Linked DNA regions of Homo sapiens: all the other regions are linked to region 2. Evidence: fine-mapped expression QTL. A gene starts in region 2. Each other region holds a variant in brackets. All regions are shown on one strand. Distances are from middle to middle. Region 1 overlaps CSGALNACT1 (chondroitin sulfate N-acetylgalactosaminyltransferase 1). Region 2 holds the start of ATP6V1B2 (ATPase H+ transporting V1 subunit B2). Region 3 overlaps SLC18A1 (solute carrier family 18 member A1).

Region 1 (10,673 bases), 500 kb before region 2:
GTGGGTCTCATCCTGGGTCTTATCTCTACTCTGCCACTAATTAGCTGTGCGGCCAGAGTGCACTTCACAATCTCTCTCCTGGCCTCAACTTCTTCCTTCTATAACAAGGAAGTTGGACTAAATACTGTCAAATATCCCTTCTAAGCCTAAAATGCTCCAATTGACTCCAGGAAAATAACCTAAGAAATGCATATTTTAATTCAAAGTAAAATTAAAGCATGATGAAATAAAAACATGGCGTTTAGATTTCTAACATCATTTTAGAGGCTGTACTGCAGATTGGAGTAGAGATTGTGAATTTAAGAGAAAAGCAACAATGTCAAGACAAAGGAACATGGGTAATTTAGAAAGGCCTCCGAAAGTTACTAAGCTTTCATGTGATATCATGCACATGTTGTTTAAGAGTTTGTGGAGTCAAAAAGGAGTCAAAAGCTTTCTCCTTCAGCGCAGGAGATTTTGTAATATTTCTAAATGATCCAGCCAAACAACATTGGAGGAAGAAAAAAAATCAAACACTACACTACACAAGCCATCATCCTGTCACAAAGCCATTAGCGCTCATGAAAAACGATGGTATTGTTAAGGTTTATTTATAGTTCTTTCTTAATCAAATAAAAAATGAACAGGAAAACACTCTGAATATAAATTTTTAAAAACTTTAAAGACCCAAGACCAGTAGCAAAAACATGTATGAAGACATAGTCCTACAAATCGTCTTTTAAAAACAAATTGGATAGGCAGGAATGCTTACGGCTATGGCTGAATTCTGCCTTTCTCCAGGACATCATGAATAATTAGACATCCAGCAGTCTAGGTTACTGCCATCAGGACTTTGGGGAACTTGACAATGTGAAAAAGATTCTGTCCCCAATCCAACTTACATTTTATGCAATTTGCCTCAAACACCACTGTAGCATCTTACAGTAAAGCAAGATAATGTGTGTCATATTTTTTTAAGTCATGCAAACAACTGAAAACAACCAACTCTTCGTTCCAGGGATATAAGCATGAATTAAAGGCAGGCCTTCCCTCAAGGGGCTCACTGTTTAGCAGGAGAGAACAACATTTAATACATAATTGGAACAGGGCATATGAAACACCACGATGCAGATGTACATAAAGGGAAGTGGGGGCAGGGAAGTGCAAGGAGGAAGCAACCACCTGTGGCTGAAAAACCACAGTAGCTACAGTGGTTATGAACCCAAACTCTAGAATGGGGCTCCCCAGTTTCAGACCGCAGCTTGCTACTTGCTAGCTGTGTGACTCCGAGCAAGACATTCAGCCTCTCTATGCCTCAGTTTCCCAACTGTTAAATGAGAGGGATAGTAATGGTGCCTACCTACAGGTACCACACAGGGCTGTTGCAAGGCTTCAGCACACAAGTTCATGTGGGGCATCTAGAATGGGGGTCGGTACACAGGAACCACACACAGTGTCGACTGTTCTCACTGTTACAGAGAAAGCTTAGATGGTGCTGAATCTTAAACGCTGAGTGGGCATTTCCCAGAAAGACAAGTATAGGCAGAGCCTCCCAGGCAGAAAACAGTGCATGCCAATGAATACTAGCATGAAAAGCAACCCCACGTGATTTGGTGTAGCTCAAAAGTGACATGTGAGGGGTTGCAAGGCAGGAGGTAAAGATGGTAAGGACAGATGGCAGAGGGCCTGTGTGTGCCATCCATAGGAATTTCTCCTTTATTCCCACAAGAACGGGAAGTGTGAGTTTCAAGTAGGTAAGAGCATTGTCAGATCTAGCAGGAGAGTGGAGGATGGCCAGAAAGAGGCAAGGATGGAGACAAAGAGACCAAATAAGAGGCAATAGCAATGGAGAGAGATGACCACCATGAAGAGGAAAAATGGTAGTGAAGACACATCAGAGGCAAGCACTTGGGAGCCATAGAGGCAGTTTCATGGTCTTACTGACCCTGAACTGAGGGTTGCAAGCAAGAGGGTCAAGAAGGAGTCCAGAATGACATCCAGGTCTATGGCTTTGGCAGATGATGAACAGTGGGGTTGATCATGATGGAAATTCAGGCAGAAGAACAGTACGGGGCTGTTCAGGGAAAATGTCCAGACAGAACCACAAGTCACATTAGCACCTGGGGAAAGTCTGGCCACTACCCTTGTAAGATGACTGGGCACCAAATCTCAGGGCCGGGCAGAGCTAAAACAGAAGAAAAGCAAGATAAATGGCTGGAAAAATCTAGAGACTGGACCAAATGCTACCTGGGGAGTGAGGGAGTGAGTAGCCCAGAGCCCCCCTGTACAAGGTACCCAGCAAGCTCCATGCTATGGGTCCAGCGGCTTCAGGGCCCTTGCTGGGACCGAGCAGAGTCAGAGGCAATGAGTCCACTGTGGGACATGTGGACTTGAAGGAGCTCAAGAGGCAGTGGTAAACAGGACTCTGGAGTTCAGAAAAAGAGGCCTAGAAACAGAGATTGGAAGGTCATTAGAGAGAGGTGGTGGGTAACGTCCCACCCAGAGAGGGTAACGTGAATTAGAAGAGGGTGAGAAATACGACTGCAAAAGAGAGCTATTGAAAGGGGAAAGAGATGGTGTCCCAGGAAGCAAGGAGGAAGATCAAGAATAGAGAAGTAAACACTGAAATGCTGCCAAAAAGTTAAGTAAGTGCATCCTCGGATTTGTCAATTAGAAAGTCATGGTGAGAAGGGTCACAGTGTTATTCATGGGAGCTCCACTGCGGGGGCTGAAGAGTGAATGGGAAGTGAGAAGGCTGCTGGGGAAGCAGGGAGAAGTCACTGGACAAAGCAGTCCCATGAGGTCCCCTTGATATGCTCTTCATACAGATTTTTAAAAAATAAGAAATTTGTCCAAGGTCCCTCAACCAGAAAGTCAGAAAGCTGGATTTCAGTTCCTTGCCTTCTGGCCCCAGAACCAACGCTCTTTCCATCATACACTTTGGAAACATTGTGTTTGGGGTTAGGATATGGGAGGAAACCAACAGCTGTGAACATTGAGAATATTAACTATGAATACGATGCACACTTGTTCATGCTTTTGCTCTCATGGGAAAATAAACTAATATTTGAATAAGCACATAGCACAAGCTACTATCTCATTAATACCCATAACAATTGTTTTTTACAGACATTTACATTGTACAGAAGAGGACACGGAGGCTCACAGGCTAAGGTAACTTGCCCAATAAGGCCGAAGAATTAAGCAGAGGAGCAGTGATTCTCAAAGAAGTTAATCTGGAGGCACTACTGATACTGCTTTAAAACTTACCTATGTACCTCACACTTAGTAGGATGGCTACTATTTTTTTAAGATCAGAAAATAACAAGTGTTAGCAAAGATGTGGAGAAATTGGAATTCTTGTGAATCACCGGTAGGAATGCAAAATGGTGCAGCTGCTATGGAAAAGAGAATGGATAACCCACAAAAAAAAATCATTGATTTACCATATGATCCAGCAATTTTGCTTCTAAGTATACAATCATCCCTCATTATCTATGGGGGACTGGTTCCAGGACTCCCCACAGATACCAAAATCCTTGAATGCACAAGTCTCTTCCATAAAATGCCATAGGATTTGCATGTGACCTAGGAACATCCTCCCTTATTTTTTAAACATCTCTAGATTACTCATAATACCTGACGCAATGTAAAGGCTATGTAAATAATTGTTGCAGTGTATTGCTTTTTTCTTTTTTTCTTTTTTTTGCTTTGTTTTTTTGAGATGAGGTCTCACTATGTTACCCAGTCTGGTCTCAAACTCAAGCAATCTGCCTGCCTTTGCCTCCCATGCTGGGACTACAGGCATGAGCCACCGCGCCCAGCCTCGTTTTTTATTTTTAGTTTTTTAATGACTCATTGCTATTTTTCTTGTTTTATTTTTTCAAATATTTTCAGGTCACAGTTGGTTGAATCCACAGATGCAGAACCCACAAGGCCAAGTGTATACCCAAAAGAATTGAAAGCAGGATCTCAAAGAGATTTCTGTACACCCATGTTCATAGTAGCATTATTTGCAACAGCCAAAAGGTGGAAACAACCCAACTGTCCATCAACAAATGAAGAGATACATAAAATGCTCTGATCATGAAGTGGAATATTACTCAGCCTTAAAAAGGAAGGAAATTTGGAAA[C/A]AAGCTATAACACAAGTGAACCATGAGGATCTGATGCTGAGTAAAATAAGCCCATCACTAAAGGGCAAAAATTATATGATGTTACTCACATGAGGTCCCTGAAGTAGTCAGGTCCATTGAGCTAGAAAGTAAAATTACAGTTGCCAGGAGATGGTTAATGAGGAACAGGAGTTCTTGTTTAATGGGTACAGTTTCAATTTTGCAAGATGAAGAGTTCTAGAAATGGATGGCAGTGATGGTTACAAAAGAATGTGAATCTACCTATTGCCACTGAATTGTACACTTAAACACTGTTAACACTGTAAATTTTATGTTCAGTGTATTTCATCAAAATTTTTAAAAGAACTTAGGGGCTGGGCACGGTGGCTCAGCCTGTAATCCCAGCCCTCTGGGAGGCCGAAGAGGGGACAGATCACGAAGTCAGGAGTTTGAGACCAGCCTGGCCAACATGATGAAACCCTGTCTCTACTAAAAAATACAAAACTTAGCTGGGCATGGTGGCGCGTGCCTGTAGTCCCAGCTACTCAGGAGGCTGAGGCAGGAGAATCACTTGAACCCAGGAGACAGAGGTTGCAGTGAGCTGAGATCACACCACTGCACTCCAGCCTGGGTAACAGAGTGAGACTCCGTCTCAAAAAAAAAAAAAAGAAAAAAAAAAACTTAGGTAAGTATTATTTCCCATTTTAAAATAAGAAATAAGGCACAATGATGTTAAGTCAGGTTTTTTTTTTAGTAATATAAATTGTTTACTGCAGACCTGGGCCTAGAAACCAAACCTCCTATTTCCGGGTGTGTGATCTTCCTAGACAGCACTCACAGGTTTGCTTTCAACTTCGACTGTGACTTGAGGTTAGGAAGTCATTATAATGTGTTGCCATGGTGTCCTTCCTTATTAATAAACCTGGCCCAGTGATCTTTCCTATCTACAAAATCAGGCTAATAGCCTTCCTTTTATGCCTCTCATAATGGTACTAAGGTGTTTTTATATTATTGACAAAGTAGTTATGGGTGAAAATATGATAGAAAGGATACGGACCGTATGACACAGCCTTCCTCACCATTAATCAGGGAGGACTTAGTGCATGATCCATGGTGGTATCTATGAATGTGAACCAAGTCTCTCCCTCTATCCCTGCACCTACAATTGATTGAACTGAAAACATCCGATGTTCCTATCTCTTTCTGTAATTGTCCTTCCTCTCTTGAACAAACTTCTTAAAGGCAAATCTTAACATATGCTAAAAATGAAACAAATAGACCACCAAAATCTGTCTGTCCAAGAAAAGGCAATCAACCTCTATAAAATTCTTTGAAACCCTTGAGGTCACTTTCCTGCAGTGTGGCAGTAGCCCCTAGTTTCCCATATCATATCCATCCTTCCCTTTCTCTTAGTAACAGAACATTTGTATTTTTGAAGGGGGCAAAATTTTTGGAGAAATTACCTTTCCCAATATCCACTGAAAACAGGGATAGCCAATGAAATGTCAGTGGAAGTCCTTAGGTGGGGTTTGCAGGAAGGAATGTAAAGAGAGCTTATTCAGCTTGCAGGTGCCTTTCTGACCTTCCACCCTTCCCTCTTATGCCATCAAGACAGAAATGATGGCTGGAGCTGCAGCAATCATCTTGAGTTCATGAAGGAAGGAGACCAAGAAAATTTCAGTTCATCTATTATCCGTTTTTTTTTTTTTTTTTTTTGATACAGAGTCTCACTCTGTTGCCCAGGCTGGAGTGCAGTGGGGTGATCTCCATGCACTGCAACTTCAGCCTCCCAGGTTCAAGTAATTCTCGTGCCTCAGCCTCCTGGCTAGCTAGGATTACAGATGTGCCACCACACCAAGCTAATTTTTGTATTTTTAGTAGACAAGGGGTTTCACCATGTTGGCCAGGCTGGCCTCAAACTCCTGACCTTGAGTGATCTGCCCACCTTGGCCTCCCCAAGTGCTAGGATTACAGGTGTGAGCCACTGCACCAAGCCTACTCTGATATCTTAAGACACCAAAGCAGTGCCAGCAACTGTGTACCTCCAGTCTTCTTGTTATGTTCTGAAAATTAACCCTTGGAGTTTAAGACCACACAGTGGAAGGTCTGTCACTCTTAGCCAAATGCAATTCCTCAGGGGTACACCTAAGATCCTGAAAAGACCCTACATAGACAATTAAGTTATGAATAAATGTTACTGGATAATGATGACGATGATCACAAGGATAATGATGATGACAATGTTAATATCTATGCAGCGCATCCTACATGTCACGTACTGAAGCCCAGAAAGTTTAAGTAATTTACCCAAGATCTTGTGGCTAATAAGTGGTAAGACTCGACTTTCAATCCACTCAATCTGGTTCCAGAATCCATGCTTTTAACCACTACAAGATGATAATATCAAGTAGAACAAACTAATATACACTGCACAAATGAATAAACACAGATATACTCATCTTAAAGCAGCTTTGTTGATTCATTAATGAAAATTCTTATTATATGCCATCCCCAAATTGCTCCTTTATTTGAGAATTATTTCCTTTAGGAACTGAGATTCTTACAGGTCTGGCAAACATTTGATTGGCTTCATAAGTGCCTACCTGTTACATTAAATACTGCTTGAACCATCATTATAGCCTCCTAACAGATGCCCTTGTTTCTGATCCCTCCTCTTCACCATCCATCACACCACCATTGCAAGATGAATCTCTCTACAGTGGAGCTCTGAGCCCCTCACAGCCCTTCCCAAAGGTATTCAGTGGATCCCTAGAGCCAAACTCTGGGCCAGGTGCAATGGCTCACACCTGTAATCCCAATGCTTTGGGAGGCTGAGGCAGAAGGATTCCTTCTGAGACCAGCCTGGGCAACATAGTGAGACCTCATCTCTACAATAAAATTAAAATTTAAATATTAGTTGAGGATACACCTGTAGTCCCAGCTACTTGGGAGGCTGAGGCTGGAGGATCAATTCAGCCCAGGAGTTGAAGGCTGCAGTGAGCTATAATCACACCACTGCACTCCAGTTTAGGTGTCAGGGTCTATGTCTCTAAAAAAAAACTTAATTAATTTTTTAAAATTCAAATTCTTCAACCTGCATCTGCTCCCAGCCCTTTCCCACCTTTCCAGCACTCCCCTTCCCAAGCAAAACCCTCCAGCCAAACTAAGCACTGGTTGTCCCCTGCATGCACCTGGAATGCTCCATCTCAGTCCTTGTCACAGACTGCTCTGTTGGCCAGACACCCATCTTCTCCCATCCATCACCCAGTTCCATGTGTCTATACCAGACCTCGTCCTCAAGACTCAAGTCACATACCATGTCAATGACTCCTTCTGGACAAGGGCTGAGCTGCCATGGATCTAGTGCAGAAGGAAAAGCTCTGGGTTTCAGGGTCTCCCCTAAAGGGAATCAGTGTAGCCCAGCCCCCCACCCAGTAGCCCCCACTTAGACCAGGGCCAATGACTAGATCCACTTCTTCCCCTACACCCCTCTTAGCCCCCTTCCTGGTGTGGGTTCACTTCCCTTTATATCTCATCTGATCAACATGATCACCGTGGACAGAATTCAAGCTCAAAAGGGAAACCTGTAACCCTATGGATGTCTGAGGCAGGGGAAGAAGGGAGGTCATTGGGAAGTGCTCACTAGTGTCCCTCCAATAGGATGCTACTGTCTTCTGATCTATTACCAAAATAACCCAAGACCCTGAAATCGAGAGCTTTTCCTTCTCAACTAGACCCATGGCAGCTCAGCCCTTGTTCAGAAGGAGCCATTGACGTGGCATGTGACTTGGGATTTGAGCCACTCGAAGTTGTTACATAATAAGAACAGGCTGACCTCTCTTGGTTTGTTGGTTGGTTGGTTTTGAGACGCCATCTCACTCTGTCACCCAGGCTAGAGTGCAGCGGCGGGATCTCAGCTCACTGCAAGCTCTGCCTTCCAGGTTCATGCCATTCTCCTGCCTCAGCCTCCTGAGTAGCTGGGACTACAGGCACCTGCCACCAAGCCCGGCTAATTTTCTGTATTTTTAGTACAGACAGGTTTTCACCATGTTAGCCAGGATGGTCTTGATCTCCTGACCTCATGATCCACCCGCCTGGGCCTCCCAAAGTGCTGGGATTACCGGTGGGTGTGAGCCACCATGCCCAGCCCTCTCTTTGTTTTTAGTGCTCCTCAGACCTTCAGGTAACTGGAGAGTTGGTTACTACTGACTGCACAGCACCTTCCACAGTAAAACAAAGTTTAATCAATACAAGAAATCCTCTCATGGTCTGCATGTCTCCCTGATTGATACAAAGTTATCAGATTCATTCACTCAGAACAACATATTCTACACCAAGTAATTTTTGTGATTAAGTTTAGTTCTCTACAAAGTACGTTACAATTAACAGTGTTTTTTAGGAAACTGCCCATGCACTGGCTTTCCTCCCTTATCCTACACGCAGCTCTCAGGAGCCTCTTACATAGTACGGGTGCATATCTGGCAGTGACATCTTTCCTGAGAGCTGTCAGACCCTTGAGGGTATCATCTATGTCTGATTTGCTCTTCCAGCCCCACTCAGTAAGCCTAACACACTACACTGCACATGGGAGATCTTACTTTTTAAAGTTTTGAATGAATGAAAGAATGAGAATGCTCTGAATTAACCAAGCTTGATGGTTAATTACATAATTACATGGATCATTCTTATTCTCTTCTCTCCCTCCTTTCCTCTCTTCCATTTCCCCCAGTCCCTGGAAAAACAAGGCACTAAACGAATGTGCTGCCAAAGGAGAAAGAAGAAAGGTAACAGGGCATTTGAATCACAGACCCTTCCAGGCCGATATTATATTGTTAGATGGAGAAGAAATTTTGAATTTTTCCAAAGTACCATTAATACTTTTTAAAAATAAATTTCTTGCATATCAAAACCACAGTCATCTATCACTTCACACCTTAAGATGGCTGTGATGAAAAAGTCAAAAATATCAAGTGTTGTCGAGGACTTGGAGAAAAGGGAATCCATATACATTGTTGATAGGAGTGTAAATTGGTATAGCCATTATGGAAAACAGTATTGAGGTTCTTCAAAAATTAAAAATGGAACTACTCTATGATCCAGCACTCTCACTTCTGGGTATATACACAAGGAAATAAAATCACTTTTTCAAAGAGATACCTGCACTATTTTCACTGCAGCATTATTCACAATAAGATATGGAAACAATTTAAGTACCCATAGACGGATGGATGGATGGATGGGTGGATAAATGGATGGATGGATGGAGAAAATGTGATATATACATAAAACAGAATATTATTTACCTTAAAAAAGTAGAAAATCCTGCCATTTGTGATAACAAGGATGAACCTGGAGGACATTATGCTAAGTGAAACAACCTAGACATGGAAAGAAAAACATTGCTCAATCTCATTTCAATATGGAAGTTTTAAAAGTTGAACTCAAACAGACTAAAAGGGTAGTTACTGTGTGAAAACAGAGTTGGGAAATGGGGAGATTTTGCTTAAATGATGCAAACTTTCCATTACAAGATGAATAAGTTCTGGTAACCTACATCATAGTGACTGTAGTTAATACACGTATTGCCCACTTAAAATGTGCTAAGAGGGTAGATCTTAAGTATTTGCACCACAAAAAGGTACTATGTGAGGTGATAATTAGCTTGATTATGGTAATCATTTCACAACATATACCAAAGCATCACATTGTACACCTTAACTGTATGTAATTTTTGCCAATTATACTTCAATAAACTTGGGGGAAAAACAAATAGAAAGTAAATCAGTAATTCTACCTTAAGGATAGTAACTCAAGGGTAGCTATTTATGCAAAGACTTACATCAAGAATTCCATTAACTCAGGGAAAAACTGGAAACAATTTAAATGTTCAATAATTATTTTCTAATGCATTTTTATGCATCCATTCAATGACATGTTTTTGAATAATATTTAGAAGGAAAAAGCTCATCATTTGAATTTTAAAATCCAGGGAAGGCTGGGCACAGTGGCTCATACTTGTAATCCTAACACTTTGGGAGGCTGAGGCAGGAGGCAGGAGGCTTAAGCCCAGGAGCTCAAGACCAGCTTAGGCAATATGATGAAACACCATCTCTACAAAAAATACAAAAAATTAGCCGGGCATGGTGGTGCATGCCCATAGTCCCAACTACTCGGAAGCCTGAGGTGGGAGGATTGCCTGAGCCGGGGAGGGGGAGGCTGCAGTGAGCTGAGATCGCACTACTTCACTCCAGCCTAGGCAACAGAGCGAGACCCAGTCTCAAAAAAAAATCCAGAGAAAAAAATGTAAGGCTAGAGTTTCAAAAATTGTACATGACATATTATGAATAGATGTTTAATATATAAATACAACCATAAACATAAAAGTAAAGCAACATTCCAGAATGTTGATGCTAGTTAAAGCTGAATAATCGAATGACAGGGCACGACTAATTTTCATTTTCTTTCATTTCCTCGATTATCTTCAATTACCTTGTATTACTTGATTATCTGAATCCCCGAACCTCCCCTCCAACATGAAGACAAAGGCAAAAAAATCTGGAGGTGCAGTAGCTACAAATAAAC
Region 2 (10,552 bases):
TCAAAGTACAGTTTCCAGCCTATACACCTCACTCTGCCTCAGATGGTCAGAATTTAAAAACAGCCAACACAGCCAGGTGCGGTGACTCACGTCTGTATTCCCAGCACTTTGGGAGGCTGAGGTGGGTGGATCACCTGAGATCAGCATTTGGAGACCAGCCTGGCCAACAGGGAGAAACCCTGTCTCTACCAAAAATACAAAAATTAGCTGGGTGTGGTGGTGGGCACCTATAATCCCAGCTACTAAGGAGACTGAAGCATGACAATCGCTTGAACCCGGGAGGTGGAGGTTGCAGTGAGCTGAGATCATGCCACTGCACTCCAGCCTGGGCGACAGAGCAAGACTCTGACTGAAAAAAACAAACAAAAAAAACAAAAACAAAAGCAAAAAAAACCAATAATAAAATATATAAATAATTAATTAGCTTCCTCTCCCATCTTATGCTGAAAATGTTGTACTGATGATTTTATATTGGTATATGCCTTGCTACATAGAAACACATAGGTCTGTTTATTTAATCTGTTGTGGTTTGTCTTCATAGTATTTTCCTTGATTAGAATTTTCCAGCAAATAAAGAGAGATACACATTATCTGGAAAAAAATCAGTCACTGGCATGAGATTTTCTTACCCCTTTCTTCTCTATTTTTCTTCCCCAATAATCATTTGTAATAAAAGAATAAGAGTTTGCCTTTCTATCTAAGATGTTGATTTCTGGAAGCTTCTTTTTAAATTCTTGAGAAGCCGGCATGACATGAAATCTTCCCAACTCACAGATGGAGATTCAAAGACAGAAGGAGTTGAGGATTGGCCCAAGGTTACACTGTGCATAAGGAGACAGTCAGCACTGAAACTGGGCTGGTGATTCTGAGTCTCATGTTTTGACCACATTCCCTACTGCTGGGGAATTCCTGGGATTTTTGCATTCCTTGGAAGTAAAACAAGGATATGGTTTCAGCAAATAACAGGAGGACAATAGCCAGTATACAATATCTGTAGGATGACTCTTCCTTGGCGGGGGGCGGGGAACCCTCCGTATGGAAGAATAAGATTGGTGGACAACTGTTCATTTTTAAGAAAAAAGCAACACATTTTCATTTATCTAATAGATATTTACTAAGTACTATGTGTAAGTTACCTTGCTAGGTACTTTAGATAGAAGACAAGAAAATGATAAGATACAGTCGCTGCTTAATACAAACTACTCAACTAGTCCAGGAGCCATATCATTTCTTTCTTAGAAAAGAGCCTGACACAGCCAGGCATGGTGGCTCACACCTGTAATTCCAGCACTTTGGGAGGCTGAGGTGAGCGGATCGCGAGGTCAGGAGTTCAAGACCAGCCTGGCCAACATGGTGAAACCCCGTCTCTACTAAAAATACAAAAATTAGCTGGGTGGTGGCAGGCACCTGTAATCCCAGTTACTCGGCAGGCTGAGGCAGGAAAATCGCTTGAACCCAGGAGGCGCAGATGGCAGTGAGCCGAGATCATGCCATTGTACTCCACCCTGGCTGACAAGAGCAAGAATACGTCTAAAAAAAAAAAAAAAAAAAAGAAGAGCCTGACACATATTAATTAACACATAAATATTCTGTTAATCAATAAATCAAAGCATGTAATAATAATGTTAGCTAAGCCATATCTAGCCTTTGCTATTTGCCAAATACTTTGCATTATCTCTTTTAATACAATAATTTTATGAAGATAATATTATTCTCATTTTATAAACTAGAAAAGTGAGGATTAGAGAGAATAAATTTTGTTCAAAGTCATAGAACTAATCAACTCAGGACTTAAACTAAGTCTGTCTGACCTCAGAGTCCATGCCCCAAGCCCCTGATAGAAGAAAAACTTCAGCTGAATTAAATTTAAAGGTGTTTAATTGAGCAGTGAATGATTTGTGAATCAGGCAGCCCCCAGAATCACAGCAGATTCAGAGAGACTCCAGGGATGCCTCGTGGTCAGAACAAATTTATAGATAAAAAAGGGAAGTGACCTACAGAAATCAGAAGTGAAGCACAGATAGAGCTAGATTGGTTACAGCTCAGTGTTTGCCTTATTTGAACACAGTTTGAACACTCAGCAGTGTATGAGTAGCTGAAGTACCACTGCTGGGATGGGCCAAGACTCAGCTACTGTTACAGGCGCAAACTCCTAGTTAGGTTTTCAATTTTGTCTACCTATTAAGTTAGGTTGCAGTTCATCCACAAGGACTCAAATATAGAAGTACAGAGTCCTTCTCGGGCCATATTTAGTTTGTTTTAGCACCTCTTACCCTTAAAACTGTGCAAGCCCCCCCACCTCCAGCTGATACTCTCTCTGTGTGAGTATATGTGACTTTTGGATATTTAATACACATTTCAGAAGAGAAAAAGATTTTTCTCTCCAAATTGCAGCATCAATTATTGGCATCAATGCACAATTTCCTGCTTTTTACCAATGTACAAACATGTTCTACACTACTGCAACTGGTCTATATCTGTGCTAAGCTTTCACTCAATATTATTTGGTATAAAGAGTTCAAATACTTGAATTCCACCAGCTATATATCATATTCATGTCAGTATCTATTAAATATACACTACTGGTGCAGTTTACTATTATGGGATATTTAGGTTACTATTTCACTTTCACTCTGATGAATAGCATTGCCATAACAAGCTATAAACATTTATTCCTTTGGTTAATAATCATATCATTGAGATCATGGAATCAAATTATTGGATCAAAGTGCGTGAACAAGTTTATGATCCCTAACCTATACCAGGTTGCTTTGCAGAAGGTCTGGCCAATTTCCAAAGTCATCAGAAATGAGCTGGTGCGACACTTAGCCCCGAATCCTGCCAACACTTAAAAAAAATCATTCAGTTTTCTTAATTTAACAGATAAGGTGGAACGGTGATGCTTAGTTTGAATTTCTTCATTACTAGAGAAACTAAAACTTTTCTATATTTTCCTAAATGTATTTTTCTATGTATATAACACTTCATTTATCCTTTTCCTTCTTGCATATTAAGGGGATAATTTTTTTAAACCCAAGGAAAAGCATTTATATAATATTGCTATAAATAATTCTAAGAAACTCTGAATTTCAGTTGACTAACAGTTTTGGGTTACCTGCGCTTTGCACAGGTACCATCGTAAGATCCAAATAAATTACACAATTTTTAAAAATGTAGTTGTCTGAGAAGTTAGAGACGGTGTCAAGTGATACCAACTATCTGACACAACCATGTGGCAATTTGATTAAACACTTGTGATTCCATAAATGGCAATACCACTCTCCCAATTTGTCAGTGATGCTTACTTGGTGGTTTTCTTTAAGAGTTTCAGGCTCCTTTGACAATGTGATAGAAATCTGTGGGTTATTTCCACGGAAAATATCCATATGCACACATTTTGCACAACGTTTCACCGACTTCCTAGGGTGCCAAGTTAATAATCCCTGTTTTACAGCAATCTTGGACTTATCTCTATCATTGTTTTTTTCATTTGAAATATTTCTCCCAGCTGCACTGTGCTCCACATCCCCCTTGCCAATCCCCCATTCCATATCTGAGGTTACAGAATGGAAAAGTGCAGGAGAAAGATATAAATGGCCACTTTTTAATGATATCATTATTGCGATGAGCTCTGTGACAGAGCTAAGGCCAGCGTGCTATGTAGGAAAGCCATCATCTGGTTTGAGTCCATGTTGCTCACCCAGACAATCACAATAGCTTCCTAACTGGTCTCTCCATTTTTCTCTTGCCTTCTTCACCAGTTCATATTTTGCCCAGTAGAACAACATGCCTCTTTAAAGCCTAATCAGATCATATTCCTCCTTCATAAAATTCTACAATCACTCTAAGAATATAATTCGAACTGCTATCTGCATAGCCTCCAAAGCTGTACATGATCTGGCCCTGCCCTCTCTCCTGCTGCTCTCTGCTTAGCTGTGTCCATTCTAGCCCCACTTTCCTTCTTCTGCCTCAGGACCTTGGCACTTGCAAAACCCTCTGCCTATGCCACACATCTCTTAGAGCTTCCCATGATCTGCTTTCTCTCTCCATTCAGATCTCAGATGACTGAGAAGTGCATTCCCTGATCACATCATCTAAAATCTTATCTTCGTCTAGATCACTCTTTTCTCTTTATCTTGTTTTATTATTTTTCATCATACTTGACACTACCAGGCACTTTATTTACATGTTTGTTTTCTGACTTTCTCCCTCCAACAGGTATCAGGATGACAGAGTCTTTGTTTATTTACAAATATATCTCCAGGACTTAGATCAGCACCCGATACACATGTGCATTTTCTCAACAGATGTTTGTTAAATAAATGTTGGGGTTACCACTCTACGTATACACATTAGACCACAACTAATTTCTATTACCAGAGTAAAAAGTTAAAAACAGGTTTTTTTTAAAGTAAAAGCCATGAACTACTCCTAAAAGAATAACATAAAAATTGTAACAACTAACAGTCTGATATTCACATATGAAATTTACCTACCATTGTGAAAAATTGGCATGAGAAGACTAGATTTGTAATTTTTATTAAAAAAGTTGTTATGCATTGTATTTGAAAAAATCAGTACAAACACCTGTTAAAGCAGTGAAACTACATAGAAAGATTATTAAATTAAAAATAAAATTTCTCCTACTGTTCACATGTTAATCTACTTTACATGGCATTTTGCAATTGCTTTTTTATTTTAAACCTAATAATGTGTCTTGGACTTTTTTTAAAAAAAAAAACTCAACCCTTGAGCCTCCACTGAATTCTTTTCAAAAGTTTGAGAAATACCTTTGACTTAATAGGCTATAACTTATGAATGGGCATTTAGATTGTTTCTAGGTTTATGCTATTACAAAAATTTTTTTTGAATATCTGTGTGTATGTATATATACATGTATATGTCTGTAGACCATATATAATAATATATACCATATGGTGCATGACGTAATGTATTATATATAATGGAAAATATTTGTCACATACACTGAGTGGATAGATAGATACAGATATATCTACAGAGAGAGAGAACGATAAGTTCCTAGTACCAAAATATTTGAATGAGATATCACCAAATTGTTCTTCTAAATATCATACCAATTGTGCTCTTATCAGTAAAGTATTACAATTCCTGTTTAATTTTACACGTGCCAACTTTGGACATTAGTTAAACTTAAAAATTATAATCTTCTGGGTGCAGTGGCTAACGCCTGTAATCCCAACATTTTGGGATGCCAAGACGGCGGGATCAATTGATGTCAGGAGTTCGCGACCAGCCTGGCCAACATGGTAGAACCTCGTCTCTACTAAAAACAAAAATTAGCCGGGCGTGGCGGTGGGCACCTGTAATCCCAGCTACTTAGGAGGCTGAAGCAGGAGAATCGCTTGAACCCGGGAGGCGGAAGTTGCAGTAAGCCGTGATTACGCCACTGCACTCCAGTCTGGGCGACAGAATGAGACTCCCTCTCAAAAGAAGAAGAAGAAGAAGAAGAAGAATCCATTCCATTGCTCCGGCCTCCAGCCTGGGCTGTCATCCTACACTAGTCCCACCCCTTACACAGCTTCCAAATCTGCCCCTATTTTTCACACCGCTACGCACATCCTATAACAAGCCAATATATGTTTGTCGAATGGATACATGCGTGAACGAATTGGGTAGGGAGTAAAGTGAACTAAATGATGCCACATGTGTTAATAATCACTGAAACATGTTTTCCATTGCTTCTGTTTTTCAAAGCGGTTTTCACAGCTTGAGTTCTCTCCATTCAGCGTCACGAAAGCCCATTCGAAATGGATATCAGCTGACGTTGGCCTGCACGCGTTTGCCTTCCTCCCCTCACTCCGCTTGTGCGCCTCTCTTTCGGCTGGCTTTCCTCTCTCCTTCCATCTCCCCTCTTTCGCTTCCCTTCCCTCTGCGCCCGCGCGCGCCTCCCAGCACGCTGGTCAGCTCCTCTTGCTCGCAAGCAGGTCTGGCCCCAGCGGCGCGAAGTCACGAGGCTGGGGGCGGCCGGCGGCGAAGGGGGCGGGGCGAGGCCGGGGCGCCGCAGCGCGCATAGGCGGAGCCTCGGGCCGCGGGCCGCCTTGGTATATCTGCGCGTGCGCGGCGTCGCTGCTGGGCCAGTCGGGACAGAGGAGACAAGATGGCGCTGCGGGCGATGCGGGGGATTGTCAACGGGGCCGCACCCGAGCTACCCGTGCCCACCGGTGGGCCGGCGGTGGGAGCTCGGGAGCAGGCGCTGGCAGTCAGTCGGAACTACCTCTCCCAGCCTCGCCTCAGTGAGTATCAGAGAGTAATACGTCTCCGGTCTTTGCTCCCTAGCCTAGCCCTTTGCTCCCAGTCACCTGCTTAGCCAGCGGGTAGGGGGTAGGATTTGTTTTTCCCTCCCGCGTCTCCCCTCCGACCCTGACCCACTTGTCTCTTTAGAAGGAGATTTGCCTGTACCTAATATTTCCAGGAGATGGGCTGAGGGCAAGAGCACCAGCGGGAACTTTTTCCTGGGGTTGGTGGGCTCCTGGCTGTTGCCCTACCCCCTCCCCTCCCCAGCTTCCCTAGGCTGGAGCCTTCTTAGGCACTTGCTTCCCGTCCCCGAGGGCCACTTCTTGCCACTCCGATCTTAATCTTCCCCTGACTTCATTTGGATATCTAGGGGTCGAGGGAACGCCCCTTCTCCCCTCCCCCTGGTGAGGACCTCAATGGGGTCTTCAACTCCTGCGGAGGGCAGACGGTAGAGCCTTCGCTGACGTGGTCAGGCCTTTCGTGGATGGAGGTCAGGCCAGTAGCCAGAGGGAGATGTGGCTTGGTGTTTGGTGGAGGGGCTGCTCCGCAGAAGGACACCTAGATATCAGAGAACGCTAGAGCTGAAAAGTACCTTGCAGGTCATCCAGTCCAACCCTATCATTTTACAGGTGAGAAGCCTAAGGTTCTGGAAGGGGTAGGATTTGCCATGCTTCAGACACTTAATTATTGGCAGAGCAGGGACTAAAAATCCAGGTTCTTAAATTCTCGCTGGGCCTTTTTCTACCGTTGCCTCTTCATTTACTGACCAGTTAACCAAACTTGGTTGAGTGCAGGGTTCTTTGGGGAAGCCAGGTGGCTTTGCCCATAGGTGGTGTGTGTGCATAGGCTTGTTTAAATGTTGTGATTTTTTAAATAAAAAGGCCTTAATGAACTAGGTTTAAGTGGATAGCTCAGCAATTCCAAAAGAAATGGTTCTTGATTACTAGAGAATGCAGTTGTGTAGCATCCAACTTCTTCACAGCTTTCTTCGGAACTGGCAATGAGCCCTCGAAATAGACTTTTTAAAAAACTGGGAAAAGCACATGATGTTTCCCCAGGTGGTGAGACTGCATTTTCACTGGTTAATTGCCAGAGTGTCTGTCTCTAGGTGGCCGACTGATTAAAAAGGATTTCAGATGAAGGGTGTTAGTCTGGGCGATCTGAAGCCTGACTAATCCACATCCTGATCTGTCACTGGGTCATGTGATAGCACTGCAGTGTGAAGAAAAAGGAAAACATTTGATTCGGTGGATTGCTGAGATGTGCCTTTTACAGTAACTGGGAATTGTTCGAATTAGAAAATGTATGTTGGGACTTATCTGAGCTGAAGTAGCTACTTCAGGAAATCGGCAGATGTTGCATTCTTATGCAAACCTTGGCAATAAATTTATACCTACGAATTACAAATTCTCTTTTATTAATTGCGTTTGTATGCATTGCCTTTCTTTGGGTAGAACAGATAGACATTAGTGGTGCCTCTCAAAAAAGGTTATAAAGGTGCAGTAGTCAGTTTCCATATAATTAATCATTCAGTGTCAATTCAGAGAATATCAACTGAAATAACGTTGTTTAAAGAGTACTCCATGATTAAGATTGTAAACCTTTAAGAGAGATGAATATGATTTCTCCATGGTTTGTACGTACTTACCCAGTTGCTGAGGGATTTTTCCAGACGTTATTCTTGACAAAACTGTTGTAGCATAGGGCTTCACACTCAACTGTTAGATGTCAGGGATCCTTTTTATGTCCCCACTGCCTAGCACAGTGCCTGACACATAGAATGTGTCTTGTAATTGTGTAACTTGCATTTAAACTCCTTGCTCGAATAATTCAGTGGATAGATTGTGAACATGGGTGGAATCAGAGCAGGGAGTTGAAATGCCCGGTCGAGTTGAGTTTCACTTATATATCCGTGTTATTCTAAAAAGCATAAATGATATCATACTTAGGCTAACAACTAACAGCATTTGAATATCTTCTTATTTTGCCATATTTTTTATTCTACTCAAAAGTTTTAATTGCTTCTGAGTAAATATTGATTAACCTCTTAATTTTTGTGGGTTTTTTTTTTTTTTTTTTTTTTGAGATGGAGTCTCGCTCTGTCACCCAGGCTGGAGTGCAGAGTGGCGCGATCTAGGCTCGCTGCAACCTCCGCCTTCCAGATTCGAGCAATTCTCCTGCGTCAGCCTTTCGAGTAGCTGGGACTACGGGCGCACGCCGCCATGCCCGGCTAATTTTTTGTATTTTAGTAGAGACGGGATTTCACCGTGTTTCCCAGGCTGGTGGCGAACTCCTGAGCTCAGGCAATCCGCCTACCTAGGCCTCCCAAAGTGCTGGGATAACAGGCATGAGCCACCACGCCCAGCCAACCTCTTAATTTTTGTAAATTGATTGTAATTTTTTGTGAATTGATTGATGTTATCATTTAAGGGGACATGTAATTATAGTTATTGTGTGTGTGTGTGTGTGTGTGTGTTGAGACAGGGTCTCACTCTGTTGCCTAGGCTGGAGTGCAGTGGTGTGAGCTCAGGTCACTGCAACCTCCACATCTCAGGCTCAAGCGATCCTCCCACCTCAGCCTCTCAAGTATCTGGGACTACAGACGGACACCACTACGTCCAGCTAATTTTTTTTAATTTTTATTTTTTATTTTTGGTAGAGATGGGATTTCCCCATGTTGCCCAGGCTGGTCTACAACTCCTGAGCTCAAGAGATCCGCCCGCCATGGCCTCTCAAAGTGCTGGGATTACAGGTGTGAGCTGCTGTGCCCAGCCTAAAGCTTCACACTGAACCTTTAGAAGTCAGAGATCCTTTTTGTGTCCCCACTGCCTAGCACAGTGCCTGACACATAGAATGTGCCTTGTAATTGTGTAACTTGCATTTAAACTCAAAAAGCTTTGTTTTTTGAATGAAGAAATGGAGTAATGTTGACAGTTCCACTGTACAAATTAGATCCTTTTAAAAAATAGCTTCAAGATTATAGGACTTTTAAAAGAAATGGAAAACATATTCAGGCTTGAAATTAGGAAATTATCTTGAGCATTTTAGTTGAATTTCTGAAGTCACAAGGAATGAAAACTTGATTTTCTCTTAAAAGAAAAGATTCAACAACATACATAGAGCTTTCGGGTGCTATGTATTTTGAATTTGGTCATCTCCATTTTTCTTGAGACCCTAGATCAACTGGCCTTAAGTTTCTTATATCATAAAGCAGAGCCAGCCCTGCAAAAAGTCAAAATAGGAATCTTCTCCTTGCTTTTTTCCTAGAACCTCTTCTTCAGGTGCTCACTGCTCATCATGCAGATCTCTACTCTTCTTGTACAAGGGAAGATGATTGCTCTGGGTTTTTGTTTTGCTAATAAGGCAGAGGCTAAAAGACTAGGACACTTATTATGCAATGGCTGTCAACTTTTTCTGAGTATTTCGTAATCATTAAATGGTGTTACTAGTGTTGAGCAATATCCTATCCTGCAGGAGGAAGAGGATGTCATCTGATAAAATATGTGCTCCTTAAAACCCGTGTAGATTTTGGGTTTTAGATGTTACTTCATAAATACTTGTCTGGCTCATATGATAGTTCAGAATCAAAGCCAAGACATTTTGGTTGTAAAATATGTTAAGAAGGTAATATAAGCATATATCTTCTGTGTTGTCAGAAGTTCTGATTATCCCCCATTCACACACCTACGGGCTCAAATTCTTTTTCATTTGGAGAGGAGTGGTCAATATGTAGGTAAATAGAAATATTTAGGTAATTTACAAATGGGTTTTTTCCTGTTTTGAAGGGCAACTTAATGTCTTTGACAGCCATAGTTTAAACTGGTATCTCTGTTTTGGGCTGTTAATGGTAATGGTGAGGAAGGCTGGATAAATCTAGAGATAAAAGGTAGTGTTTGTTATCATTCTGCTTGGTTTTCTTTGCAGATAGTTTTAGTACCATGGAGAAGAGCTGTAGTTTTATACAAATTGTCTTTTTGTCCCCACTTGTAGTCCAAGTGCTAGAAGCTGTATGATCTCCATACTTTTTAATTGTACTGAAGACTAAGGCCAGAAATATTATAAGGGTCATAGAGTACCAATCCTAAGATTAAAGAAAAACAAAACAGTTAGAAGCCTGGCTCCCCCATTTAAAAACAAACTTATCAGGGCCTTAGTTTCCTTAGGGTGCATCAGCCTTGCCTACTGTCTTAGCCATTTTCTGCTCCTTTTAACAGAAAACCTGAAACTGGGTAATTTATAAAGAAAGGGAATTTATTTCTTAAAGTTCTGGAGTCTG
Region 3 (10,673 bases), 27 kb before region 2:
GTCATTTATTCATCCAATTTCTCTTGAACTAGATAGTATTTTGATGCTCATTTTAGCAATGAGAAAAGTGATGCTCAGAGGGTTTAAGGCATCTGCACAAGTTTTCACAGAAAATCAAAGGAGCTGAAACCAAAACCTGAATCTTTGGACTGGAAATCATTAATCATCCTACTACACAGCTAGGTATGTGACCTCTCCATAGCCCCTTTCATCCTCTCTCACCCTCCCCTTTCTCAGACTGCTTCTCTGAGGGACCACACACCCTCTTGGGCTTGATTCATGGGTGTGGACGTGGGAGGTCATTCTACAAAGGAAGCATGTTGTCCCTGTGTGACATTGAACGAAAGGACTCATGGCACCCACCTCCTCCTGCCAGGCCCTGAGCGGGGGTGCTGAGGTCACTTACCCAGCTGCCACTTGGGGGAGCACATGGTCTGCATCATCCAGATGGGCAGTGTGGGCTCCAGGATGGCCACCCCCATGTTGGCAAAGCAGATGGACCCTGGGGAGACTGTTCTGTGAGCAGCCGTGGCTGCTTGAAGCCCAGACACTCCCCGCCCAATGGGAGGTCATCGCCAGCTTACCTGCAGCCACCAGGATGTAAGGGTCTTTGAGAAGCATAAAGAGGGGAGTCCCCTTGGCACTCTGAGAACATGGATAACAAAAAATGTCCATTTGTACAGTGCATACATCTCTCCTATTTTCACAGAATCTGAGAAAGTACAATTATGGGCTTAGAGACCATCTACAGTATCTCCTTTACTGCAGAGACCAGGAACCCCAGTACAGGGAGAGAAAGTGACTTGTCTGATGCCACAGAGGAAGCTGGAGGCAGGACCCCTCCTGTGTGAAAGGTAGGCACTGTAATAGTCACAGATAGAGAAGCAACATATTCCAGCCATGGTTCCTGCGTTCACGTGACCATCAACAAGGTCAGAGTGGATTGGTAGCAAGGTCAGGGTTGGACAATAGATGTCTGGACTCCTGGTTTCCACTAGATCTCCCTGGTACTAATATTTGTCCTGGGAGAACCACAGGCAGAGCACCGAATCCCAAAAGCAAGCACAGAAGCCATAACTCAGAAAGCCTCTCAAGCTTTCTGAATTCTTCATTCTGATCATTTTGAGCCACACTGAACTAAGGTAGAAGAAGCAGGGTTAAAATACAGCCTAAACATCCAGGACCCACTCTCGTCAGGACACACTCTCATCTAAACTTGGTCGCCCCACCCTCTTTCCAAGCATCCCAGCAGTGCCTCAGCCATCATTATTGCCTTTGCCTAAACTACACGTTCTGAGCTTCTCCATAGTTCCATGTTCTACCCACTCTTTAAAGTCAAGCTTAAATGGCTCCTTCTTTTCTAGAGAGCTCCCTGACTCAGTAGCTGGGGCTTCTCTCTCTTCCAGACATCCTGAACACTATGTCCTAATCCTTCATGGTGTTTACTACTTTCTATCTTGTAATAGATTGGATCATTTTGGTATGATAACCCTCTCTGCACACACACAATAGTGGATTGATAAATTTAGAGATCCTAAAACTAAAGAGATCATTCGCTTACCCAATTATTATTCGAAGTAAAGAAACTGATGTAAATCATTAAAATATACATTTAAAAGTACAATAAACCCTTTGACCCAACAGTCCCACTTCTAGGAATTGACTCTAAAGATTAATGACAACATTATAAACATGCAGTCATGCAAATTACAGCACTATTTATAACTATAAAATACTGAAAACTACCTAAACATAGGAGATGGAATAAAATATGGCGCACACACTATTGTGTACACATACAAAATTGTGTGTGGGTGTGTGTGTGTCTATATATATATATATATATATATATATATATATATATATATACACCACCAGGTGGAAAATAATAAGGAAAGATTCTGTGAACTAGTAGAGTAATTTTCAGGACATATTATTGAGAAAAAAAGGAGAACGCAAAAAAAAGAATACATAGTGTGCTGCCTTTCATATAATAGAAAAGGGAAAAATAAGAAAACACATAAGCGATTTATTTTGAGGAAAAAACACTAAGACACAGGAAAGACAAACCAGAAGGCATTAAAATTGGTTACCTATGAGTGGTAGGGGTGGGAGAGGGGGAGGGTTAGAAAGACTGGAGGGATTGACACTTTCTGAGTACACCTTTTGGAATAATTTTGACTTTTAGGTGGTAATGTCCTATATATTAAAAAAATAAATTATATTAGTGTTATGGGCTGAATGGAGTCCCCCCACCTTAGTCAAATTAGTATGTTGAAGTCCTAACCTAATATGACTGTGTTTGGAGACAGTATCTTCAGGGAGGTAATTAAGGTTAAATGAGGTCATAAGAGTGGGGGCTCTAATCTGAAAAACTGTTTTCCTTATAAAAAGAGGAAGGGACATCAGGGCTCTCTTCCTCTGTGCATGCACACTGAGTAAAGGCCATGTGAGGACGCACTGAGAAGGTGGCTGTCTGCAAGCCAGGAAGAGAGGCCTCACCAGAAACCAACCCTCAACAGTACCTTGACCATGGACGTTCAGCCTCCAGAGTCGTGAGAAAATAAATATGTGTTGTTTAAGCTACCCAATCTGTAGTATTTTGTTCTGGCATCTTGAACAGACTAAGATAATTAGCCAGAATGGAGAAAAAAAACTAAAACTAAATGCCAAAAAAAAAAAACCCCACAAATGGATGCAAATGAATTTCAAATGTATCATGCATTACATAATCACACTAAAGGTGGAAAAAAGAACTAATGGAAGTACGGTAATTTCTAGATACAGTATTTGGCTATATTCATTAAGTCTAAGGGAAAAAGAACTGAAAAGTCTTGAATATTTCTTGGTAGCTTTGTTTTTTATAATGGCATGGGTAAGTATTATAGAATTATACAAGTAAGTAAATTTTTTAATCTATTTGTAAAATAGGTGTTTCACCTATTTGTATAATAGGGGGAGACAAATTTCTTACTTTGAAAGAAGAATACATGTATGGAATGGGGCAAGCAGGGAAAAATCCCGTGGAGTTGGGCTGGAAGTGGAGGTCTCAGTACAAACTTGTGTGTGTGTATTAGCTCTGTCATCAAGATGGCAGGGAAACAAGGTGACCCCAATGGCAAAGAGCACATTGAGTCCCCATAGTTTTTTGTTTTTTTTGTTTTTTTTGTTTTTTTGAGACAGAGTCTTGCTCTGTAGCCCAGACTGGAGTGCAGTGGCATGATCTTGGCTCACTGCAAGCTCCTCCTCCTGGGTTCATGCCATTCTCCTGCCTCAGCCTCCTGAGTAGCTGGGACTACAGGCACCCACCGCCACGCCTGGCTCATTTTTTTGTATTTTTAGTAGAGACGGGATTTCACTGTGTTAGCCAGGATGGTCTCAATCTCCTGACCTCATGATCCGCCTGCCTCGGCCTCCCAAACTGCTGGGATTACAGGCGTGAACCACCGTGCCCGGCCCCATAGTTTGGTTTCTAAACACCATTCCCTACTAACAAGAACCTGGGCTCCTTGGGGAAATGAATTCAGGGCTGAGGCAGGGAAAGTACAAGATGAACGTAGGACATATTTTTGTATCGAAAAGTAAAACATTACTCAAAAAACAATGAAGGTATGTTAAAATGACACAGCAACAAGTTAATGGGCTTTGACTTGTCAAATCTAGGACAATTTGAGCATCAAAATAATTAAGGACGGGAGGCCAGGAGTTCAAGGCCAGCCTGGGCAACACAGGCAGACCCGGTCTCTATAAAAAGTTAAGCTGGGTGTGGTGGCATGCCTGTGTAGTCTCAGCTACTCAAGAAGCTGAGGCAAGAGGGTCACTTGAACCCAAGAGTTGGAGGCTACAGTGAGCCATGATCACACCTCTACACTCCAGCCTCAGTCACAGAAAGAGGCCCTGTCTCCAAAAAAAAATTAAACAAGTAAATAGAGTGATGAACTACAAAAATAGGACTCCATGATTCTACACTGATAATATCAGATAAATAAATGTTTTTTAAGTTTTTTGTGAACATAATCACATGTACATAAAATTATTATATACCTATTTGGTATAAATATTTATAAATATATACATATAAAGAGAGTAAGAAAGGAATGGCTATTGCTTTTTTGTTTTTTAGAGTATTTTTTTTGAGACAGAGTCTTACTTTGTCACCCAGGCTGGAGTGCAGTGGCTTACTGCAACCTCCGCCTCCTAGGTTCAAGGGATTCTATTGCCTCAGCCTCCTGAGTAGCTGGGATTACGGTGTGCACCACCATGCCCAGCTAATTTTTTTGTACTTTTAGCAGAGACAGGGTTTTGCCATGTTGGCCAGGCTGGTCTCAAACTCCTGGTCTCAAGTGATCCGCCTGCCTTGGAGGAATGGCTATTCCTTACAGCAAAGTGCCAACTGATGATTTGGATGAATTGGTGAACTAGAAAAACCAGTATTTTGTAAACATTATAGTAAAGATTGGGTCAGTCAAGAATCATCAATGGATAACAAATCTAGGCAGAAAGGAAATTTAAGGAGGAGTAGGAGATTTATATGACTTTACAACATCTCCCACA[T/G]GTTATATATTAGTTACAAGGTGAAGAAGTAATTACTACACAAGAGACCCAGACAACACCTTGACCCAGTGATCAAAATGGACATCACCACTGAGAGGCGACGGGCATTAAATACCTCCAGACATGAAACTCAGAAGGCTACGGTATCATGAAGAAACATCAGACAAACCAAATTTAGGAATACCCTATAGATAATTGTCACAAATGTCAATGTCATGAAAGATAAAGGCTGAGAACTTTTCCAGATTAAAAGAGGCTAGAGAGGTGTGATGCATAAATGTCTTACACAGTCATGGACTGGGCTTTGCATTAGAGAAAAAAAGACTTCCATGGAAGACATTATCGGAATAATTGACACAATCAGAGTAGGCACGGCAAATTAGACTAAAGTATTATATCCATGTTAAATTTCCTGAATTTGATAGCTCCATTGACATTACATAAAAAAAAATCCTGTTCTTAGGGAAAATGCTCTAAAGTATCAAGGGGTAAGGGAACGATACAATCAATCTACTGTCAACTGGCTCAAAACATTAGTAATAATAATAATAATGTATATTTGTTAGAAAGAGAGAGAATGGGCTGGGTGCGGTGGCTCATGCCTACAATCCCAGCACTTTGGGAGGCTGAGGCGGATGGATCACTTGAGCTCAGGAGTTCGAGACCAGCCTGGCCAACATGGTGAAATCCTGTCTCTACTAAAAACATAAAAATTAGCTGGGCATGGTGGTGCGTGCTTGTAATCCCAGCTACTTGGGAGGCTGACACAGGAGAATCATTTGAACCTAGGAGGCAGAGGTTGCAGTGAGCCGAGATCGCCCCACTGTACTCCAGCCTGGGTGACAGAGCAAGACTCCGTCTCAAAAAAGTAGATATTTATGGGTGCCTCACTTTCCTGGAATCTCAAGCTGGATTTACTTGCTGAGTAATTCACCACTGCTGCACAGTTAATAATAAACAGTGGCTGAACCACCTGGATGAGTGTCCCTACGCCTGGGCCAGGGCTGGAGGGGTGCTGGGCCCAAGCATATGCCAGGCCTGGGAGCCTGTGCAGAGGGTATTTGGTGCTCCTTGCCCTGAGGAGTCCTGGATGGGTGGTGGTTATGACTTCCCTCTCCAGGACCCAGACATCCTACTCCTAAAGCCAGTCTGTAAAGAGCAGAGCATCTCAGGAGACTGCGGGAGGCTCCTAGTTGCTCTGGGGGAATTGGCACTCTAAAAGTATTGATTATGTCATAGTTTCAAATTCTTTCAGATGCTTCTCTGTTCACCCTCGATTTCATTATCTGTAGAGTGAGGCTAAAAATTGTACTTATTTCATGGAATGTGTAAGATGCAGCATAGATGGCGCACTAAGCTGAGCTCCTGGTGCGTGAAAAGCCCTGAAGAATGATGAGGTGTTAGTGTCATGACTTCCGGAATACCTTGACAAGCTGTGGAATGCAAAGTCAAGGCCTTTAGATCAAACATTTTTACACTTGATGCACTTTCTTACTTTTTTTCCTTCGTGGTGGGATATGGATTTTCCAGAGCTGTTTTTGGCTTAGAGTCAAACAAGTACCAACTCTGATATTTATTAACTGTGACAGAATGACAGTTAGGGATATTCACACAGGATGTCTTTTATTGCAGAAGATGTTGTCTAGGTGGCCCCCACAGCCTTCATCTCTGAGATGATGTTACAGCTCCAAATACTCAGTCCCCAATGTCATTATCTCCTAGCTATAATTACATGTGTGTGTGCACATATATATATATATATGGAGATCTCCAGATATACATGAATATATATATACATACCCCATATATGTGTCGAATATATAGATAGATAGATAGATAGATTCTCTATGGCTTCTTTGATTATGCACAAGGTTCTTCCACCATCTTTGTCCAACATCAAGCCAAATACGTCACTATCCCCCACACTACCTGAAACGTAACCCTATCCTGGAATCCAAACACAGTTCTCACTTTCGCTGACCCTATTCCTCTTCACTTTTCTTCTTATGGTTTGGCAGGCATGCCTGGGTTCCTGCATTCAGCCATCCTGTATAACTGTTAGAAATGGAGCTTTGTGTCTGCTTACCTCAGGAGAGACTTTGGAAGGCTGTAGGATGCAAAGCTGGAGTGCTAAGAAACAAAGAAGGTGAGACAGTTCAGCGTGTCTACTGATTAGCTGGGGGCTCCAATAACAGCTGTAGTGCTACCACCCTATTATGCATAAATTTAACTCCCTGAGTTTCTTCTTTCTTTTCTACAACGGGGCAGTCCTTGATCCATCAAAACATGTCCAAACCGCCCATTCTTAGTGAAGACTGACACTACAACATAATGCATTCCCAACCTGACCTGGGCTGTCACCTGCTGGAGGCTCTGATGGTGACTTACCTCCATCCAGTAGTGCCAGGAAGGCCAGGATGAGGAAGGGTGCAGACTTCCCAACAAACTCGTACATTACACTTCCAAAGGGAGCTCCCACTGGAGAGGCATAGGAGACACAGATTCCAGAGGTGAGGGTGAGTCCTTTGCAGTGAGAATTATCCATATTTACCCCGTGAGCATTTGCAGAAGGCCTGCTAGGGGCTAAGCTCCACCTGAGGCTCTGGGAATTCAGAGATGGAGACATGATCCCTGTCCCCATCAAGCCCACTTTCTAGTGGAGGAAGTGTGTGTGTGTGTGTGTGTGTGCGCGCGCGTGTGTGTATGTATGTGTGTGTGTGTGTAGGGAGGGACACAGATAATTAAAGCATGGTGAAAGTTTGACAGTAAAATGTTGCATGCAATGAAAGCACAGTCAATGTCTCAGGAATTTCAGGCAGCCACGAGGGCTTTGCCAAGTGTAGAGTATCTGGAGGGGAAGAAGCTTGTGTGAAGAACACAGAGGTGTCAGAAAAGAGTGTGTAGTTGGAGAAGAAAAAGAAGAAAGCGGGTGTTAGCAGAGTATGAATATTTGCGAGGAGAAAAGTAGAGCCTTGCATATGCAGGAACCTTGTATATGCAGATGAGTCATGTACTTGGCCTTGCGGCCTATGGAGAAACATCAGGTGAGAAACATCACCTGCTCTGGGCTCAGGAAGATTGTTCAGGCAGCATCGTGGTGGAAGGAGGGAGTACACAAGAGGGAGGATGCTGCCAGATTCTAACCCAGAAGTGACAAGGAGCCAGGAGTGGCTGTTGAGGATCTAACAAGCTTGTTCATTTGGGAGCTTATTCATTTGGGACATGATAAAGGATTTCAAGATGCACAGGGTTTAGCTTGGGCATTTGGGTTGATGGATACTAGCAAATAACAGGGATTCTGTTTCCTCTGCTTCCCATGGGGCTAGAGGGTGGGGCATAGGCCGGGGAAGAAATTTCAGGTGTTTTGTTTTCGATGAGCTTGTAAGCTCCTAGAGGGCAGGAACTATGCCTGGGGCTTCCCACCCTACAGTACTGGCACTGTGCTTGGCATGTAATAAGTGAAAGCATGTAGCTTGTCAATTAAGTTGTATGAGGGAGGAGCCTCAAAGAAAGGGTAGTTTTATCGTTTGGGGCTTGGGTTTCCAAGCCCAGAAAATCGGAGTCTGTATCCTGGCTGTGGCGTTTCCTAGCTGTGTGATGTTGGATGGTGTTTTCGCCATTCTTATTTTCATCTCTATAATGGGGAAAATCATTCCTCCTTTCATTCCTGGTGGTGAGGAATAAAAGAGATTATGCGTGTAACAGATTTAGCAGAGCATCTGGCAGCAGCCATGCTCTGGTGCTGTGTGCATGGGAACCGAGGCGAAGCAGTGGCCTCTAAATCGGGGAGGCTCACTTCCTCCAACAGGCTGGGCTTCCGGACCTTTCTCCGACGTTTATGTGTTTCCCAGCTTCTTAAGGAGAAGGAAATTTAACCTTTTCTCAGTGATATTTCTAAAGGAGTTGAAATAGGATGAGGCCAACAAGGGAAGGAAAATACTCGTCTTCTACACCTCGGGAACACCTGCTTCCTAGAGTCCCACCCTCCCGAACCCAGAGCTCCAGCTGGTGCCACTTACCCAGCAACCCCAAGGCCAGGCCCCCCAGAGCAGTTCCCATGGCTCGTCCTCTCTCATGGTCATCAGTGTAGACACTGGCCAGCATTCCAAGACCTGCGCAGAGAGTTACAGATGCAGCTGGCCCCCTGGGGGGCTTCTATCCGCCTCTCAGAGCCCTTGGTCCCACCCTGTTATCTCTTCAGTGACAATCTTAGCTAGAGTTTCAGTTTGAGGGGTTTTACAAAACTTAACCCGTAGTATTTTTCAAGTACTACCCTCCCTAGTCCCCCAAGCCCCCACATTGTCCACTCCTGTTCAGAATATTGTTGATAGTGCAAGCCCTCTGGAAGGATAACACAGAAAATCCATTGTCTGATTATACCATGTTTCATAACATTTTATCATTTCCTAGCACATTTCCCAAAATGAGGGGTTACAGAGCAGATCAGGGAAAGGAAAATCTAGGCACACAGAGACCATTCTATTTAACAGGGGTGCCCAGGGAAGAGCAGGAAAGCACTGCAGACCTGGAAGAAAGTGTGGGCTAGTGCTGTACGGCAGCTGGACCCTCTGGCCTTCATAGCTATGGGTAAAATGGCATAAAATGCCAACTTCATAAGATTGCATTAGATATTATATTCACCAGTACTTTGAAAACTGTGCTGGTGTTACCAGTAGTACTAACATGATTATTCCTATAAAGTACTAAGAGGGGGACAGAAAAAGGACCATAGAGTGGCACTAAATGAAAGCCTGCCCTTCTTCATAGCTTCACTGGAGGCTTGCTCTGACCTGAGCTAGCTGCATCTGAATATTAGCAGAGGAAGTTATGTCAGGCTCAGAGATCTATGGACCCTGTTAGAAACTCTGTAATTCCTTTCTTTTTTTTTTTTTTTTTTTGAGTTAGGGTCTAGCTCTGTCACCCAGGCTGAAGTGCAGAGGCACAATCATGGCTCACTGCAGCCTTGACCACCCAAGCTCAAGCCATCCTCCCACTTTAGCCTCCCAAGTAGCTGGGACCACAGGTGCACACCACCATGCCTGGCTAACTTATTCTCTCTTTTTTTTAATAGAAATAGGGCTCTCACTATGTTGCCCAGGCTGCCCGGGTTGGTCTCAGACTCCTAGAATCAAGCTATCCTCCTGCCTTGGCTTCCCAAAGTGCAGGGGTTACAGGTGTGAGCCACTGTGCCCAGCCCAATTCCCTTATTTCTGAATCACAATTTCTACCTATCCAGGTGACATTTTCCTTAATTTCTCCATGTAAATATAGGATCTGAGGTAGTAAGAGATGTGTGTGTGTGCATGCCTGCATGTGTGTGTGCATGATGAGTTGCCAGTGTTACCTGCAACAGATGAAAATGAAGATCCAATGCCTTGAAGGGTTCGGGCCACAAAGAGTAGAGTATAGGTCCCAGAAAAAGCAAACACTGGGCAGAGAGAATAGCAAGATAACTGCAGTTAGCAAATTGCCTTTGCTTCCCCAGCCGCCAGAGAACATGCCCGTGATACTGCAGATATGAGTCTTGATGCATATGTTTTTAATAAAGCATGATGACTGTTCCCTGTTTTTTGAGTTGTCTTTTCAATCTCCCACTCCTCAGTTTTGCTATTTAAATGGCAAGAAAACTGAGAAACCACAGAAGTATAAACCGAGTCACCACACAGCAGATGGAAGGCTGAGTCTGTACATCTCTTGCCAAGAACCCAACATTCTGTCCACTGAAATGAGGGATGTCCATGAAGCTCAGTGTCCTAGGCTGGAAACTGGTTCTTAGATCATACTCCTGGATCGTCCATGTGCAAAATCCAGATCTGGTCTTTACCATTGCTGGGTCCCACAGGATCATCTGGAGTACAGTGACAGTAAGTAGGTGCTTCGAGGATTATAGGAATTGGGTAGAAAATAATATCTTGTGATACAATCAGATCCTTTTTTATATCTTATATTGAACGATCTTTTAACCAGACAAAATCAGCAGGTATTAAATTATACTGAATGCGCAGCTCTGCTAGACTCTGTAGCAAATGCAAAATAAAAATAACATCTAGTTATTGTCCGTGAAGAGAGGCAGTGTGTTGAAGATGGACACCCAGGAAACTGAGATCCAACAGGAATAT

The links. PIP is the estimated chance that this variant, and not a neighbour inherited with it, causes the effect.
Region 1: its variant is fine-mapped to the expression of ATP6V1B2 in whole blood (TOPMed, PIP above 0.99).
Region 3: its variant is fine-mapped to the expression of ATP6V1B2 in whole blood (TOPMed, PIP above 0.99).

The regions. Positions count from the first base shown.
Region 1 is chr8:19,695,367-19,706,039 of GRCh38, forward strand. All of the region lies in intron 1 of CSGALNACT1 (chondroitin sulfate N-acetylgalactosaminyltransferase 1), which reads right to left. Among named protein-coding and RNA genes, the nearest start is that of CSGALNACT1-AS1, 22 kb to the left of the region's middle. The variant C/A (reference allele first, on the strand shown) is at 4,113.
Region 2 is chr8:20,191,268-20,201,819 of GRCh38, forward strand. ATP6V1B2 (ATPase H+ transporting V1 subunit B2) reads left to right here and starts at 6,114. Exons shown (of 14, transcript NM_001693.4): 1 at 6,114-6,275. The coding sequence starts at 6,140. RefSeq lists a silencer at 5,888-6,167.
Region 3 is chr8:20,164,463-20,175,135 of GRCh38, forward strand. SLC18A1 (solute carrier family 18 member A1) reads right to left here. Exons shown (of 16, transcript NM_003053.4): 5 at 9,899-9,982; 6 at 8,574-8,666; 7 at 6,943-7,032; 8 at 6,641-6,684; 9 at 585-645; 10 at 407-502. Among named protein-coding and RNA genes, the nearest start is that of SLC18A1, 13 kb to the right of the region's middle. RefSeq lists an enhancer at 1-1,127. The variant T/G (reference allele first, on the strand shown) is at 4,555.